Regions from separate parts of the Homo sapiens genome. Here region 1 is linked to region 2. The links come from fine-mapping of genetic effects on gene expression. A gene starts in region 2. The other region holds a variant in brackets. All regions are shown on one strand. Distances are between the middles of the regions. Region 1 holds the start of LOC124906368 (small nucleolar RNA U13). Region 2 holds the start of RAB43 (RAB43, member RAS oncogene family).

What was found. PIP is the estimated chance that this variant, and not a neighbour inherited with it, causes the effect. A credible set is the group of variants that fine-mapping cannot tell apart.
Region 1: its variant is the best candidate, but not a certain one, in a credible set for the expression of RAB43 in whole blood (TOPMed, PIP 0.53).

What each region holds. Positions count from the first base shown.
Region 1 is chr3:129,066,832-129,075,156 of GRCh38, reverse strand. LOC124906368 (small nucleolar RNA U13) reads right to left here and starts at 1,062; the gene lies at 955-1,062. The variant G/T (reference allele first, on the strand shown) is at 4,905.
Region 2 is chr3:129,116,845-129,125,169 of GRCh38, reverse strand. It overlaps RAB43 (RAB43, member RAS oncogene family), which reads left to right and starts at 3,366. Exons shown (of 3, transcript NM_198490.3): 1 at 3,366-3,884. The coding sequence starts at 3,681. The region is part of intron 11 of ISY1-RAB43 (ISY1-RAB43 readthrough); the gene reads left to right. RefSeq lists silencers at 3,137-3,356, 3,377-3,556 and an enhancer at 4,337-5,282.

The DNA of each region.
Region 1 (8,325 bases), 50 kb after region 2:
TCATTGCAATTTCACACCCAAACTTAAATGTTCCTCAATAAAAGATGAATTAATAAAAATAAAATGAATGAATACAATAAAATTAAAAATGACTAAGTAGGCCAGGCATGGTGGCTCACGCTTGTAATCACAGCACTTTGGGAAGCCAAGGTGGGTGGATCACTTGAGCTCAGGAGTCCGAGACCAGCCTGGCCAACATGGCAAAATCCTGTCTCTACAAAAATATATTAGCCAGGTATGGTAGCGTGCTCCTGTAGTCCCAGCTTCTCAGGGAGGCTGAGATGGGAGGTTAGCTTGAGCCCAGAAGGTCGAGGTTGCAGTGAGCTGAGATCGCACCACTGCCTCTCAGCCTGGGAGACAGAGTGAGACTCAGTCTCAAAAAAAAAAATTGACTAAGTAGAAACAGATGAACCATGAAAATATGTTCTCAATTACTCTCATAAATAAAATAATCGTAAATATATATTTAAATATATGGGTGTGTATATACACACGTACCCACCCACATATGTATATATACACACACATTTTGGGGAGAAAGCCTGGAAGGATATTCAGTCAAAGTTAGGAAGAAATCTGTCTCTGGAGGGGGCTGGATTTCAATTTCAGGCCTTTTATTATTATTATTATTTTTTTTTTTTTTTTTTTTGAGACGGAGTCTCTCTCTGTCACCCAGGCTGGAGTGCAGTGGCGCCACCTCGGCTCACTGCAAACTCCGCCTCCCGGGTTCACGCCATTCTCCTGCCTCAGCCTCCCGAGTAGCTAGGACTACAGGCGCCCGCCACCACGCCAGGCTAATTTTGTTTATTTTTAGTAGAGACAGGGTTTCACCATGTTAGCCAGGATGGTCTCGATCTCCTGACCTCGTGATCTGCCTGTCTCAGCCTCCCAAAGTGTTGGGATTACATGAGTGAGCCACCGCGCATGGCCTAGGCCTTTTATTATTATTTTTCATGTCTGGTAGGTAATGTGCTGACATCATAACAAGGTTTGAGAAAAGAAGTTCTCACTCACACAAGAATGAGAAAAGCCAATCATCACACTTATAAACTACAAAAGGCTCCTAATTTTTTTGCAGTTTTAGAGAAAAATTTTTGGTTATGATCATGAATTAGTTATATATAGCCAGGAAAATCAATAAAGCTATTTCCATTTTTTAAAGAAGGGAAAAAGTTGGGCTAGATAATTTGTGTGGTTATGATCTCAACTATATACAACTGTTCGGAGAAGGACACCAGAAGGAAATACCGCAATGGCGAGCCCCATTGTTCCCTCCGTGACTTCACGCTGGTGTGTTTACTTTCTAGGAATGTATCTTTTCCAGAGGTAGAAAAGAGAAAAGCTGGGATGCTTAGACTAACTGTGTGTTAATAGTGACTGTCTTTGGCTAAAGGAGCTTACAGAGATTGCTGTATTACTTAAAACAAAATTATTACTATGTATTGTGGTAAAACATACATGGCATGGGCTGGGCATGGTGGCTCAAGCCTGTAATCCCAGCACTTTGGGAGACAAAGGCGGGTGGATCACTTGAGGTCAGGAGTTCAAGACCAGCCTCGTCAATATGGCAAAACCCCATCTCTACTAAAAAAATCCAAAAATTAGCTGGGCAAGGTGGCGCATGCCTGTAATCCCAGCTACTCAGGGGGCAGAAGAATCGCTTGAACCCAGGACGCAGAGGCTGCAGTGAGCCAAGATCGGCCTGGGCGGCAAAGCGAAACCCTGTCTCAAGAATAAACCCCCAAAACAAACCATACATGGCATAGTATTTATGAGAGAACATAGTATTTTGAGAGAAGCACACCTCACTCACACAAGAGCAAGAAAAGCCAATCATCACACTTTTAAACTACAAAAGACTCCTAATTTTCCTAATTTTAAGCATCCATAAAATCCGTAAAGTGGAGAGTGCAGGGACCTTAAGCACATTCACACTGCTGTGCCACCATGAACACCATCCATCTCAGAATGCTTCCGTCTTCCCAAACTGAAACTCTGTCCCCACCAAACTCCCCGTGTGCCCTCTCCTCCAGCCTTGGTGGCCACCACCCACTTTCTGTCTTGGAATGTGACCACTCTAGGGCCCCCAGGCCATATTGGTTCCTCTTCTGGGCATGCTCATAAACTTCTGTCTTGGTGCAACGAAGTTGGGCAAGAGCTGAAGGAGGAGGCTCGGTCCTGACCGAGAGCCTTGCAGGGGTAAAACAGCACCTGCACAGCTGGGTAGGGGTCCAGGCAGTGCTGACCCAGTGTCCATGGGACTCCAGGAAAGAAAGCAGGGCTTTGCCCCCTGCCTAGGAGACGACAGGAGATTTTAACTAAATACATTTTGTAGGTTGGGCGCGGTGGCTCACGCCTGTAATCCCAGCACTTTGGGAGGCCGAGGCAGGTGGATCACGAGGTCAGGAGATCGAGACCATCCTGGCTAACATGGTGAAACCGCGTCTCTACTAAATATACAAAAAATTAGACGGGCGTTGTGGCACATGCCTATAATCCCAGCTACTCGGGAGGCTGAGGCAGAAGAATGGCGTGAACCCAGGAGGCGGAGCTTGCAGTGAGCCGAGATCAAACCACTGCACTCCAGCCTGAGCGACAGAGCGAGACTCCGACTCAAAAAAAAAAAATAAAAATAAATAAATACATACATTTTATGATCATTTTCCTTCCCTGTTATTATAACATGGGAAATCCACAGGGATTTTCTATTTTGCCACCGTTGTATCGGTCTTCTCTTTTCCTTCGGTCTAGGGCAAGCTTGTCCAACATGTGCCCCAGGATGGCTTTGAATGCTGCCCAACACAAATTTGTAAACGTTCTTAAAACATTATGAGGATTTTTGCAATTTTTTTTTAGCTCATCAGCCATCATTAGTGCTAGTGTATTTTTTTTTTCTGTTTATGGTGTGAGATATAAATTAAATTTTATTTTTTCCAACTTGAAAGTCAATTGTATACCTGCCTTTTATTGTATCCTATTTTTAAATTACAATTTCTTTCTTTCTTTTTTTCTTTTTTAGAGACAATCATTCTATCACTCAGGCTGGAGTGCAGTGCTGTGATCATAGCTCACTGCAGCCTCCACCTTTTGGGCTCAAGTGATCCTTCCATCTCAGCTTCTCAAGTAACTGGCACTACAAGTGTGTGCCACCATACCCAGCTAATTTTCTTATTTTTATTTTTTGTAGAGATGGGGTCTTGCTATGTTGCCCAGGCTGGCCTTAAACTCCAGGGCTCAAGCGATCCTCCCTCTTTGGCTCCCCAAAGTGGTGGGATTACAGGCATGAGCCACCACACCCAGCTAAAATTATAATTTCTAATTGTCTAAAAATGCAATAGATTTTTGTGCATCGATCTAATATTAAGTAACATTTTCAAAATCCCCTACTAATTAGTGTTGGTGTATTTTATGTGTGGCCCAAGACAATTCTTCTTCCAATGTGGCGCAGGGAAGCTAAAAGATTGGACACCCCTGGTCTAGCGTAAAATTCCAGAAAGGTTGGTTTCTAGAGCCCAAGTCTGCTCAGCCTGCACCTGCCTGAGACCCCAGACGAGGGGCAGTAGGCCAGCAGGGGTCTGCCCCAAGATCCCTTCCCAAAGGTCAGTGTCTGTGTTGGGGGGTGAGGGTATTGTCAAAAAATAAACCCCCACCAGCTGCTGCCTCCCGTTTGTTTGCTTGGTTTTTACTGCTCCTTGTTGAGCAGGGCTAACTCACAGGCAGAGCGCCCAGAATCGCTGCGCCTATAGCTTTTGAGAAGCCGTGTCTGGTGGAGGACACATTCTGGTCCACTCCAGCGGGCGCCACGCGGTGGTGTCTTAATCACTAAGAAGGTCAAATCCATAGCCTATTTGTCATCCTAGCTTGTTTCCAAGAATCCCTAAAGTTTAAGAATCAAAGACCCCAGGTGGGTGAATAAGGAGGAAGGTAGGGGGCAGAGGCAGAGCACTTGGCCTCAAAGCAGCTGTATTCATCTGAGAACGCCACGCGGCCATCAGGCATCCTTTCTGTGAATTTTGTTTCCATGCTTAATACAGATTTTTTTGGGTTGACCAGCAGTTCCTAAGTTGAGTGCCTGTGAGCAACCATGAGAAGAGGACTTACAAGAGTGGCATCGGGGCCAGACTGCTTGGCTCCAAATCTCACCTCTGCTATTTACCTTTCTGTGCCTCAGTTTCCCCATCTGTAAAATGGAGAGGAGGAAGGTGAGGTGAGAAGGGTGTTCACTGCCCACACCAAGAGGTAGCTCTGAAGCCGGCCCAACTGCCCCACAGAACTGATGTTCATGGTTTCTTTGAATAAACATAGAAATTGATCCTCCCAGTCTTAAAACTTGAGAAAGTTACATTTGTCTTATTTGAGTTCCTCTCTTAGGAAAGCAACTATCAGGCCTCCCAGATAGTGTCAAGGAGTTGAAACTCACCACATCATCTGCACAATGAGAGGCTAGACCTCTCACCCATCATGAGTGCCTAACTGACCACCTGCTTCCTGTTGACCTCCCTAATTCCTGTTTTCCCACACATGGTTACGTTTCTTCTCTGTTATATTACCCCTAGTTTTAGTCCGTCAGGGAGATGGATTTGAGACTGATCTCCCATCTCTGACTACAGCACACAATTAAAGCCTTCTTCCCAGGCGATACTTGTTGTCTTATTGGCTTTCTGTGCAGTGAGCAGCGGGACCTAGACCTAGACCCTGGTGTTGCAGTAACAGTTCTGAGGTTTATACACCTTCCTAAGGGTGAGGGACTTGGTGCAGTGCTTGGTACTTAAATGTCCCCTGCATACGTGACCCCTTGGTGATCTTTTCCTCTCCACAGCTTGCTCCTCATCTGAACAACAAATTCAGAATTTCCCTAAACTAGCTATAAAGGAAAACATTAGAATTCATGACATGGAACGTGG[G/T]CACTCAAGCTGACACATGGTGGATGTGCAACAGATAGAAGGGCAGAGCTCACAGCGGGGAGGGCACAGGAGGTGGAAAAACCCACAGGAAGCTTACTCTGAGCCTTCAGGGACCCCGCCAGCAATATGTCCTTGACAGACATAACATTTTTAGTTACTAAAATAGAAGGAAACTTGATAAAACTGTGAGCACCCCATGCCAGCAGAGTGACCACGAGGCTGTTCCATGCTTTCAGGGATGGGGACGTTCTGAGCCCATGAGAAGTCCTCTGGGAATTCACCAGAAGGAAATAATTTGGGGAGGGTGGTTTGCTGGCTGGCGACAGTACTGTCTGTGAAGGCACGAAGAAAACAGGCCCACAGCCTGTGTCCGGAGTTCGTTCTTTCCAGTGGGTTCTTGGTCGTGCTGACTTCAAGAATGAAGCCACAGACCTTGGTGGTGAGTGTTAACAGCTCTTAAAGGTGGCACGGACCCAAAGAGGGAGCAGCAGCAAGATTTACTGTGAAGAGCAAAAGAACAAAGTTTGCAGTGTGGAAGGGGACCCGAGCAGGTTGTCACTGCTGACTGGGGTGGCCAGCTTTTTATTCCCTTATTTGTCCCTGCCCACATCCTGCTGATCGGTCCATTTTACAGAGTGCTGATTGGTCCATTTTACAGAGTGCTGATTGGTGTGTTTACATCCTTTAGCTAGACACAGAGCGCTGATTGGTGCATTTTTACAGAGTGCTGATTGGTGCATTTACAATCCTTTGTTTTTATGGGGTGCTGATTGGTGCATTTACAATCCTTTGTTTTTATGGGGTGCTGATTGGTGCATTTACAATCATTTAGCTAGACCCAGAGCGCTGATGGGTGCGTTTTTACAGAGTGCTGATTGGTGCATTTACAATCCTTTAGCTAGACAGAAAAGTTCTCCAAGTCCCCACTTGACCCAGGAAGTCCAGCTGGCTTCACTTCTCAAACCCACAAGAGGCTAGTGTAGGGTGGTGCCCATGAGCTGCCACAGAGCAAGGACACGAATTTGGGAAATACATATTGCATGTCCTCCTACAGAATGGCAAAACAGCAAAGTTTTAGAGCTTGTTGTGTATCAGAATTCAGACAATGCAAGCCTCAATGCCCAGCCATGGGCTTCTTAGTCTAGAGCAGTGGTTTTCAAACTTTTTGCTCTCAGGACCCATTCTTAAAAATTCTGGAGCACCATAGAGAGCTTTTTATGGGTTATATCTACCAATAGTTACAGTGTGTGAAAATAAGGGGAGACAGTTTAAACATACTTAATGTGTCACTTTGTTTACAATCATAATGATAAAGCTTAAGGATGTTAATGAAAATAAAATACTTTAATAAAAACAAAGCTGGGCATAGTGGTGTGTGCCTGTAGTCCCAGCTACTTCAGAGGCAGAGGTGAGAGGTGACAGCCTGCTGGCAGCCCTCACAGACCTCGCTCGCTCTGGGCGCCTCCTCGGCCTTGGTGCCCACTCTGGCCGCGCTTGAGGAGCCCTTCAGCCCGCCGCTACACTATGGGAGCCCCGGCCAGCCCCTTTCTGGGCTGGCCAAGGCCGGAGCCGGCTCCCTCAGCTTGCGGTGAGGTGTGGAGGGAGAGGCGGGGGCGGGAACCGGGGCTGCGCGCCGCGCTTGCCGGCCAGCGCAAGTTCCGGGTGGGCGTGGGCTCCGCGGCCCCGCTCTCGGAGCCGCGAGTCCGGAGCAGTGAGGGGCTTAGCACCTGGGCCAGCAGCTGCTGTGCTTGATTTCTCGCCGGGCCTTAACTGCCTCCCCGCAGGGCAGGGCCCAGGACCTGCAGCCCGCCATGCCTGAGCCTTCCCTCCTCAACCACTCCCCGCCGGCCCCAGTGGGCTCCTGCGCGGCCCCAGCCTCCCCGTCAAGGGCCGCCCCCTGCTCCAGGGCACCCAGTTCCCATTGACCACCCAAGGGCTGAGGAGTGCGGGCGCACGGCACGGGACTGGCAGGCAGCTCCACCTGGGCCCCCGTGCGGGATCCACTGGGTGAAGCCAGCTGGGCTCCTGAGTCTGGTGGGGACTTGGAGAATCTTTATGTTTAGCTAAGGGATTGTAAATACACCAATCAGCACTCTGTAGCTCAAGGTTTGTAAACACACCAGTCAGCACCCTGTGTCTAGCTCAGGGTTTGTGAATGCCCAATCGACACTCTGTATCTAGCTACTCTGGTGGTGACTTGGAGAACTTTTGTGTCCACACTCTATCTAGCTACTCTGGTGGGGACTTGGAGAACTTTTGTGTCTAGCTCAGGGATTGTAAACCCACCAATCAGCACCCTATCAAAACGGACCAATCAGCTCTCTGTAAAATGGACCAATCAGCAGGATGTGGGTGGGGCCAGATTAGAGAATAAAAGCAGGCTGCCCGAGCCAGCAGTGGCAAACTGGTTTGGTCCGCTTCCACGCTGTTGGAGGTTTGTTCTTTTGCTGTTTGCAATAAATCTTGCTGTTGTTTGCTCTTTGGAGCCACACTACCTTTATGAGCTGTAACACTCACCGCGAAGGTCTGCAGCTTCACTCCTGAGCCAAAGAGACCACGACCTCACCAGAAGGAAGAAACTCCGAACACATCCAAACATCAGAAGGAACAAACTCCAGACGTGCCGCCTTTAAGAACTGTAACACTCACTGCGAGGGTCCGCAGCTTCATTCTTGAAGTCAGTGAGACCAAGAACCCACCAATTCTGGAGACAAGAGGATTGCTTAAGCCCAGAAGTTTGAGTACAGCTTGGGAAACATAGTGAGACCCTGTCTCAAAAAGAATAGATATGTTCCAAAACAAAAGAGTGAGAAGTGTGCCATTCTATATTTTTTGCAAATCTTTTAAACGTCTGGCGTAATAGGAGGTAGCTGGATGCCGTGTCTGTGTCTGCAGACACACTGCTGTGATGTCACAAATCATGTGGCCTCTGGAAAATTCTCTTTTATTTCAAGAGGGATTTTAATTTCAGAAAACCACAGTGGAAAAGGCTGATAATGGCCTACAGTATGAACATAGTTTTGAATATGTGGACCTCTCTAAAAGAGTTTCAGGGAACCTCCTCTCCCCAGCGGTCTCTGGAGCTCTGCTTTGAGGACCAGTGCCCTAGAGAAATAGCCGCACAGGTGCATAGGGCTGCACACGGCAGCTTGTTTGTAAAGGAGAATGCTGGAGCAATTGCGCCAGAGGACACAGAGACCAAGAGAGACTACGCAGCAGCCACGGAGAGAGAAGGGCCTATGTGGCTAACACGCACAGGTGAGAAAAGCCAGTTTCGGAAGAATCCAAAAGTATGATACATTTACATAAAAACCTGCCATAAGACCAGCATATTTTCTGTGGGCATATATGCGTATCGCAGAAGTGGACCACCACCAGAATTGGGGGAGAGATGTACTATTTTAATTTTTTCTAAAAGCAA
Region 2 (8,325 bases):
TGCAGAGATCGCGCCACTGCACTCCAGCCTGGGCAACAGAGTGAGACTGTGTCTCAAAAATAAAATAAAATAAATATGTTTCTTGGCCGGGCATGGTGGCTCATGCCTGTAATCCCAGCACTTTGGGAGGCCGAGGTGGGCGGGTCACCTGAGGTCAGGAGTTCAAGACCAGCCTGGCCAACACAGCAAAACACTGTCTCTACTAAAAATACGAAAATTAGTTGGGTGTGGTGGCACACGCCTGTAATCCCAGTTACTGGGGAGGCTGAGGCAGGAGAATTGCTTGAGGTTGCAGTGAGCCAAGATCAGGCCATTGCACTCCATCCTGGGCAACAAGAGTGAAACTCTGTCTCAAAAAAAAAGTTAAATTCTTGACCAATTTTTTTTTCTTTCTTTCTTTTTTTTTTTTTTTTTTGAGACAGAGTCTCGCTCTGTCGCCCAGGCTGGAGTGCAGTGGCATCATGTTGGCTCACTGCAAGCTCCACCTCCTGGGTTCACGCCATTCTCCTGCCTCAGCCTCTGAGTAGCTGGGACTACAGGCGCCGGCCAACACACCCGGCTAATTTTTTGTATTTTTAGTAGAGACGGAGTTTCACCATGTTAGCCAGGGTGGTCACGATCTCCTGACCTCGTGATCCGCCCATCTTAGCCTCCCAAAGTGCTGGGATTACAGGCGTGAGCCACCGTGCCCGGCAACTAAATTCTTGACCTATTTTAAAAATTTTGCAATATAGGCCGGGTGCGGTGGTTCACGACTGTAATCTCAGCACTTTGGGAGGCCGAGGTGGGTGGATCATGAGGTCAGGAGATCGAGACCATCCTGGCTAACACGGTGAAACCCCGTCTCTACTAAAAATACAAAAAATTAGCTGGGCATGGTGGCGGGCGCCTGTAGTCCCAGCTACTCGGGAGGCTGAGGCGGGAGAATGGCGTGAATCCGGGAGGCGGAGCTTGCAGTGAGCCGAGATCGCGCCACTGTACTCCAGCCTGGGTGACAGAGCGAGACTCCGTCTCAAAAAAAAAAAAAGTGCAATATACATTTTTTCAAATTTGGTGTATTAAATGAAACATAAATATTTTTTAATTGCTGCATTTCAAATTAGCATGATTCCATTTCAAATAAAATGCCACTGTGCTACTCAGGAATTTACCACCAAAAGAGGAAATGCAGATATTAGACAGCTTTATTGAGGTATAATTTACATACCATAAAACCCACAGGTTGTAAGTTTACATTTTAATGATTTTAATAAACTTGAGGAGTTGTGCAACCCTTACCACAGTCCAATTTTAGAATCACCCCGCAAAGGCAAGGGAGTGGTGCCTGGGTTTTCTGACAAAATCTATACTCAGACCAACATGTCCCCTGCCCCAGCCCAACCAGTTCCAGGCTAGAGCAGTGGAAAGGCCAGTTAGCTATCCAACCACCGTCTACCCCTACGCTTCATCCTGGCTCCTGGATTCCACACCATTTTGTGCTGTGGTAGCTGCTCTGAGCTGGGGGCAGGCCTTGTTTTCTGGAGTTCTGGACTTTGACCTGAGCTAGTCCCAGCATGCAGAAACCTTCCATCCCATCTCCTGTCTACTTCTACCCTGGAGTGGAGGTTATTTCCTGCCTCTCTAACTCTCCGCTCCCATCAGGTGTACCAAAGTGGGGCTCTCAATTGCTTTTCAGTGGCACTTTGGGGTTTCCTGTCTGATTCTGTTGGGTATTTCCCATGGGAGTGGAGTTCAAACTTTCAGAAGAAACAACTCTTCTGCCTTCTCCACGGGGTCTGCCTTTGCAGACTGCTCATTCAGTCCCTTTCTATCTTGACCTGAAAGGTTGGCTGGGGTCCTCACAGTGGCACTGGGGGACTTGCTCTCTGCGAAGTCTCCTTCAGCTTGAAGACTTTCCCCTTTTCTCCTGGATTTTTGTCTGCTTTGTCCACAGGTGCATTACAAGGCCCCAGGACAATGCCCGCCTGTAGTAGCCATTCATTAAATATGTTGAATACCTGGAATTGGAGTGCCACAAGGAAGCTGTCTAGAGGGGTAAGGGGTGCTGTCAATTCCTTCCCATCTTCGGAGCTGGGAAGCCCAGTCCTGTTGGATCTAGTATAAGCTTCTTACAGATGTTTGGGTCTCCTTTCTCTGAGGCGCCCTGGTTCACTGGGCCAACTCAGGAGTTGGTCTGCCCTTCCTCAGAAATCCCTTCAAGTTTTTCTGTTCCTCTTCCTAGACTGGTGCTTTTTGGCTGGGTCAGTTTCCCAAATGGGCCTGTAGCTGCTCTGAGCTGGGTCATCCAGCCGTTTAGCAGCTGCTTCAACCACTGCTAGGCTGCCTTTTGGAGACAAGAGCTCCCAGCTCCTCCTTCTGGCCTAGCTTCCCATCAAATGGGGCCCTGGGTCCTCTCCTCACAAGGATTTTGGGCTCCTCCGCAGTTTTGTAGCCAGCCTGGATTCTGGCCTTCTGCAGCCTGCTCCCTCCCTTCCCTTCCGCCCCTGGGAAGAGCGACCCCCACCACTCTCGGAGACTGCACTGCCCGCCTGTCAGAGTGGGCACTCAGGTGACACTGCTGTGGTCGTCCCCTTCCTCCGTGATCCATTCCGGAGGGGGTCATTCTTAGTCTAGGCCTGCAGGCCCGGAGCTCCAGCCATGGTCTCCGCCTGTCCCTGACCGGCGGTCTGGGAGGCAGCAGGTAGGGGATCCCGGGCAGGCGGACCAGGCCTGGGTGGGGGGCGAGCAGGAGGCGCGGGACAGCACCTGGGGGTCCCAGCTGATGAAGGGTCGGGGTGGGCAGCGGTTTGGGGGCCAGACGGATCCGCGGTGTGGGCGCGCCGGGGTGTTGATGGAGGAGGGGCCGAGGTGCTGAGGGCGGGGTCGGGCTGGGGTCGGGGCTGAGGGCGGAGTCGGGTGGGGCGGAGTCAGAGCTGAGGTGAGCCTGAGGGCGGAGTCGGGGCGGGCTGAGGTGGGCCTGTGGGCGGAGTCGGGGCGGTGTGCTGAGGTGGGCCTGAGGGCGGAGTCGAGGTCGGGCTGAAGGCGGAGTCGGGGAGGGCTGAGGTGGGCCTGAAGGCAGAGTCGAGGTCGGAGCTGGGGACGGAGTCGAGTTCGGGCTGAGGGCGGAGTCGGGGCGGGCTGAGGTGGTCCTGTGGGCGGAGTCGAGGTCGGGCTGAGGGCAGAGTCGGGTCGGAGTCGGGGCGCGCTGAGGTGGGCCTGGGGGCGGAGTCGAGGTCGGAGCTGAGGGCGGAGTCGGGGGCGGGGACGTAGGCGGAACCCGGGTCGGGCTGAGGTGGGCCCGAGGGTTGGGCTGGGGGCGGAGTGGGTGCCAGCCTGAGGGCGGAGCCGGGGGCGGGCGGGGGCGGGCTGGGGCGGGCCTACAGGCCAGACTGGTGTGGCACGGAGCTGAGGACCGGCCGGAGCTTTGCGGAGGGCCCGGCTTGGCGGGTCCGGGGGGGAGCCGAACCCGCGGGGCACCGGGTCCGGGCGGGGCCGAGCCGGGCCGGGGCGGGAGCCAGCCGGGGTGGGGCGGGGCCGAGGCCGAGGCAGGCGGTCGGCAGTGCTGGGGGTTCAGGTGTTGCGGCGGCTCCACGTAGCCAGGCGGCCCGTGGGCTGGAGCGGGCGGAGCTCGGCCCGCGGCTTGCGTGAGCTCAGGCCGGTCCCAGCGTCCAGAGCGCCGGCCCTTCGGCTTCTTCTAGGCCATGGCAGGGCCGGGCCCAGGCCCGGGGGACCCGGACGAGCAGTACGATTTCCTGTTCAAGCTGGTGCTGGTGGGCGACGCAAGCGTGGGCAAGACGTGCGTGGTGCAGCGCTTCAAGACCGGCGCCTTCTCGGAGCGCCAGGGAAGCACCATCGGCGTCGACTTCACCATGAAGACGCTGGAGATCCAGGGCAAGCGGGTCAAGGTGGGAGGCCGGCCAGGGCCCCTGGAAGGCGCTCCCTCGGAGGGTGGGGCGGGGGCAGCGGAGCCCCTGGCCGCGGCGAGCGCACCCCGCGTCCATCTGAAGTTTCCTTTGGCTTCCCCTTTTTCCTTCCTCGGGTCGGAGCAGGCCTGGGCCCCGGGGTCTGGGCCGGGTTCAAGTCCTCAAAGCGCCGGCCGTGGGTTGCTGGGGGGGGGGGGGGCGAGGGAGTGTGGAGGAGGCGGCCCTGCCCTCCGGAGCTCACACCCTAGGAGGGGACTGTGCTCCAAAATAACTTTAGCCATTGGAAGGCAGGGGGTTAGACTCCCCTGTTCCAGGTACTAGCGGAGCGCCTTGGAGTGCGGAGATCAGACCCCCCACCTCCATCCACCGCGATGGCAGCCCCCAGCTCAGCCCACCGGCGGGGCACTCAGCCAGAGAACTGCATCCCCACCCCAGGACTAGGAGCGATCAGGAAGTAGTTGCTTTTAGGACCAGAGGGCCAAAACTTTTTGTCAGAATTTCCGGCCTGGCCACGCCTCCCTGCAGTCTCTTTGTGGACCTGGTGGTGGAACTTTACTCGACTAGGGCCAGCCCCGGTTCCCTCCCCCAGCTGGAGTTTGATAGAAACTGAAAACTTCACAGATACCGGAAGGTGGGGGAGAGAACCAAGCTTTGGCAATGGCTCCGAATAAAAACAGCAGGATGTGGTTGCCACAATGTCCTGGCAGTGGTTTGATAAATATTTGTGATGAATGAAATCAGAGTTTCTTAACCTAGGTGTTAGTACTCCCTAATCAACCAGGAGATCCTGGGCTGAAGGCACTCAGTAACTTTTCTGAACCGCACTGTACAGAAATCTTTGCTTGCTTTCATGGTTTCGAGCCCCCATGATCTTCAGGACACCCTCAGGGCACAGGGCTGGGACGATCTCTGCCAGGGAGATGGGAGTCACTGGAGCCTTGCTGCTGCTGGGCTCTGCCTCTCCGGGTGGCTCTAGGCCTGCTCCTTGTTGCCTTTGGCTAGGATATGTAGCTCTTTGTCTTTGTTTCTATAAAATTGGGATAATTTCTGGGTGTTGCCTCCCTCCTGCCCCAAGGTGGAGAAAAAAGTAAGTCAACAGTCTTTATGTGTCCACAGTGCCTCTCAGTAGATGTGACGGGGAAGCAGAAACTCCTGCCTGAGGGGTTTTATTATTATTATATTTTAATCGTCTTCTGGGGTCTGTGTTTTGGTCTCCGTGGATGGAAAAGAGCAAGGTGCAGAAGGCAGCTTTGAGTCACTCGGGACCACCCTTTTGGAGCAGGTAGCCAGGGAAGGGCTGGAGTGGGTGGAGTGTCCGTTATTGAGTGTGCCCAGTGATGATGCCAGCAGCTGCAGGGAAATGGGAGTGTGAAAATACAGGCTAAAGAGCAGTGGTGTCCTCCTCATGTGCTATCGGTCTGTGTCTGGAGTGTCTGTGGTGGCCCAGTGCTGACGGTGGTCAGGGAGGGGGCAGGGTTCCTGTTTACCTGTTGAGATAACAGACTGTGTCCCAGCAGAGCTCCTGGTTTACTGCGCACGGGTTATGCAATGCAGGGCCAGGCAGTTCGTTATTTTCTTTCCTTATGGTTGCCTCCAGATTGTCCTTCCTAGGAAGCAGCCCGGGGCCCAGGGAGCAGAAGAGCTGTGTAGCTGTGGTAAACACCTCTCCAAGTTATAGCCGCTGACCTTCTTGAGAGGCTGTTGGGAATCAGCTGGGTTACAGGTGCATTCTCTGCTGACTGGAGGGAATTCTTACCCCCGCTCACACAGGATGGAGCCTGGGCACACAGCTAAGAAGTGATAGAGGTGGGAATATTTTTCCCAGTTTTTCTGACTCCAAAGCAGATTTCTCCCCCATAGTGGACAGCTTTTCAGAATCCCGTTGTCTGTGGTGGGGAAGCCTCTGGCAATTGTTTACCACCTCATTTTGCCGGCAGGAAAACCTGAAGTCTAACTCACTGCAGAGGCTCCAAATTAAAGCTGGGCAGCCGTGAACTTGAGGGAACACTGTCCTTCGAGTCAGGCTTCCTGGGGTCCGCTGCCGCAGCAGGAGCAAGCCATTTTCCCTCCTCCATCTGTAAAGTGCCTCTGAGTAGTCTTTTGGCAATGTGATTTTAAGTCAAGTTTTTTGAGGTCTAATTTACACACGGTAAACCTTCACCACTTGAGGTGTTACAGGTCTATGAACTTCTCAAACTTACACAGACAAGCAGCCACATCACTATCAAGATGGAGAATTTTTCCACCAACCCAGAAAGTTCTTTTGTTCTTCTGTAGTCAGTTCCTTTCACCTCATCCTGTGGCAACCCCCGATCTGTTTTTTGTCTCTGTAGTTTCAGCAGTGTGATTTTAACTGAAAGCCTTGATGAACCAGAGCTTATTGTTGTTTTTTCTGTGGAAAGCAAGTGCACATCAGGGATTCAGTGTAAAACCTTTCCAGGGGCCGGGTGCAGTGGCTCATGCCTGCAATCCCAGCACTTTGGGAGGCCGAGGCAGGAAGATTGCTGGATGTCAAGAGTTCGAGATGAGCCTGGCCAGCATAGTGAGACGTGGTATCTATTTAGAATAAAATAAAATAAACCTTCTCAGGGCCTGTCTTGGGAAGCCCGAGATGCTTGTCCAGCAAGCATCCAGTCTTATATCCTAAAGCTTTCCCTGTGATTCTTTACAATGATGCTGGGTTTTATTAGAGCTTCAGGAAGCTTAGAGATGGATCACCTGGTGGTTTTCTAGCTCCTGTGAGCTTGGAGGTACTGAAAGGTAAGGAGAAAAGCCAAGAGGTCAGAGAGAGGGTCAGAAGGGCTTTAACTAGCTTCCCAACCAGTCAGAGCAATACCTTTATCTAGTTGTAGGTTGAAATTCTTGTTATTTGACTAAAGAATTCTCCTGCTAAAAAAACCGAAACATTTGAGAATCACAGATTTAATCAAATTACTTTATTTCTGTAGCCACTTCCCATTACAACCAGAATAACCTCCAAACACCTTCCCCAAAGAGATGGACCTCTGGAAGGAGACAAAGTTGGAGAGGCAGACAGAGGCCCATCTCTACCCTTCACTGCCTGCTCTCCAGCTTCACTAGCCCTTCAACATGGTGGGCTTACCCCTGCCTCAGGACCTTTGCATCTCTTCCCGTGCCCATCATACTCTGCCTCTAGATCCCCACGTAACTGCTACTTCATCATTCAGGTCCCAACGCAAATGCCACATCTTCAGAGAGGCCTTGCCTGATCTCCCAGGTCCTCTATTCTGTAACTCTATTGTATCTGGTCATAACACTTACCACAGCTTCAAATTAACTGTTTTTTTCTGTCTGCCCCTATAGAAGGTAAGCTCCTTGAAGACACAGGGATCCAGTGGGCCAGTGTCAAACACATGGTGTCCAATATGTGCCTGTTAATTGGTTCCTTTATAGAGAGAAAGCTGAGGCCAAGGTCACTTACAACTCTGTGGCAAAACCAAGGGTTTGGCTGGCTCCTAAGCCCAGTCTTCATTTTTACTTGACCACCCTTCTGATTTGCTCTGAGTTCATAAAGATGACCGTGAGATTCTGAAAGTGAATGGATCTAATAAAAATGCAGTTGTGGCCATTGCATTCACTGAGAGAAGAATGTGGAATGGGGCATTTTAGAAAGATTGGGGTTGACAGTTAAAGAGTTTTAGGGTGTTTGGTTTATTATTAACCAAAACGTGTAGATATACCCAAACGGCTCAGAGACACTGCTGTACGAGTCAGTAAGGCTTTGTATATGGTGATCATTTCCAGTGTTCTTGTGGATGCATTTGACTGTAGCTATGAGAACTGGACTTATAAAGTGAATCTGAGTGCTGCTTATCTTGCATACTGTGGAGTCTCTGACAGAGAGCACTGGACTAGGAGTCTGAAGTTCTGAGTCTTGCTTCAACCCTGCCACAGACTTGGGCAATTCATTTTTTTTCTCCTTGGAGCCTCAGGCTTCCTCATCTGTGAAATGGGACTAATGGTCTTTGCTCTGCCTCTTTCTTAGGGTTGTCAGAAAACTTTGAACATGCTTAAAATAAAGTTTCCATGACTTACTTTTGAATAGATAAACCATTCACATGGTTCAAATTTCAAAATTTTAAAAACTTCAAAGGGTATATATAGTGAAAAGTCTCCCTTCCGTGTTTGTCCCGTAAGCCACCCAGTGTCCTCTAAGAAGAAGCCATCAGTGTTACTCATTTCTTATTTAAAAACAAGGATTTATAAATATATATTTTTTTATTGCTGCAGTTACTGTTTTCCTCCCTAGATGAGACAGATTAGGTCTGAATTTGCCCCTCCCCCACCCCTCCCTCCTCCCCACCTCAGTGTCCTCAGGAAATCTCAGCTGGCTCTAAATCCTTAAAACATTCTGAAGCTCCTCTACTCACTCTTATCTGGGACAACACAAAGGCCTGTTATG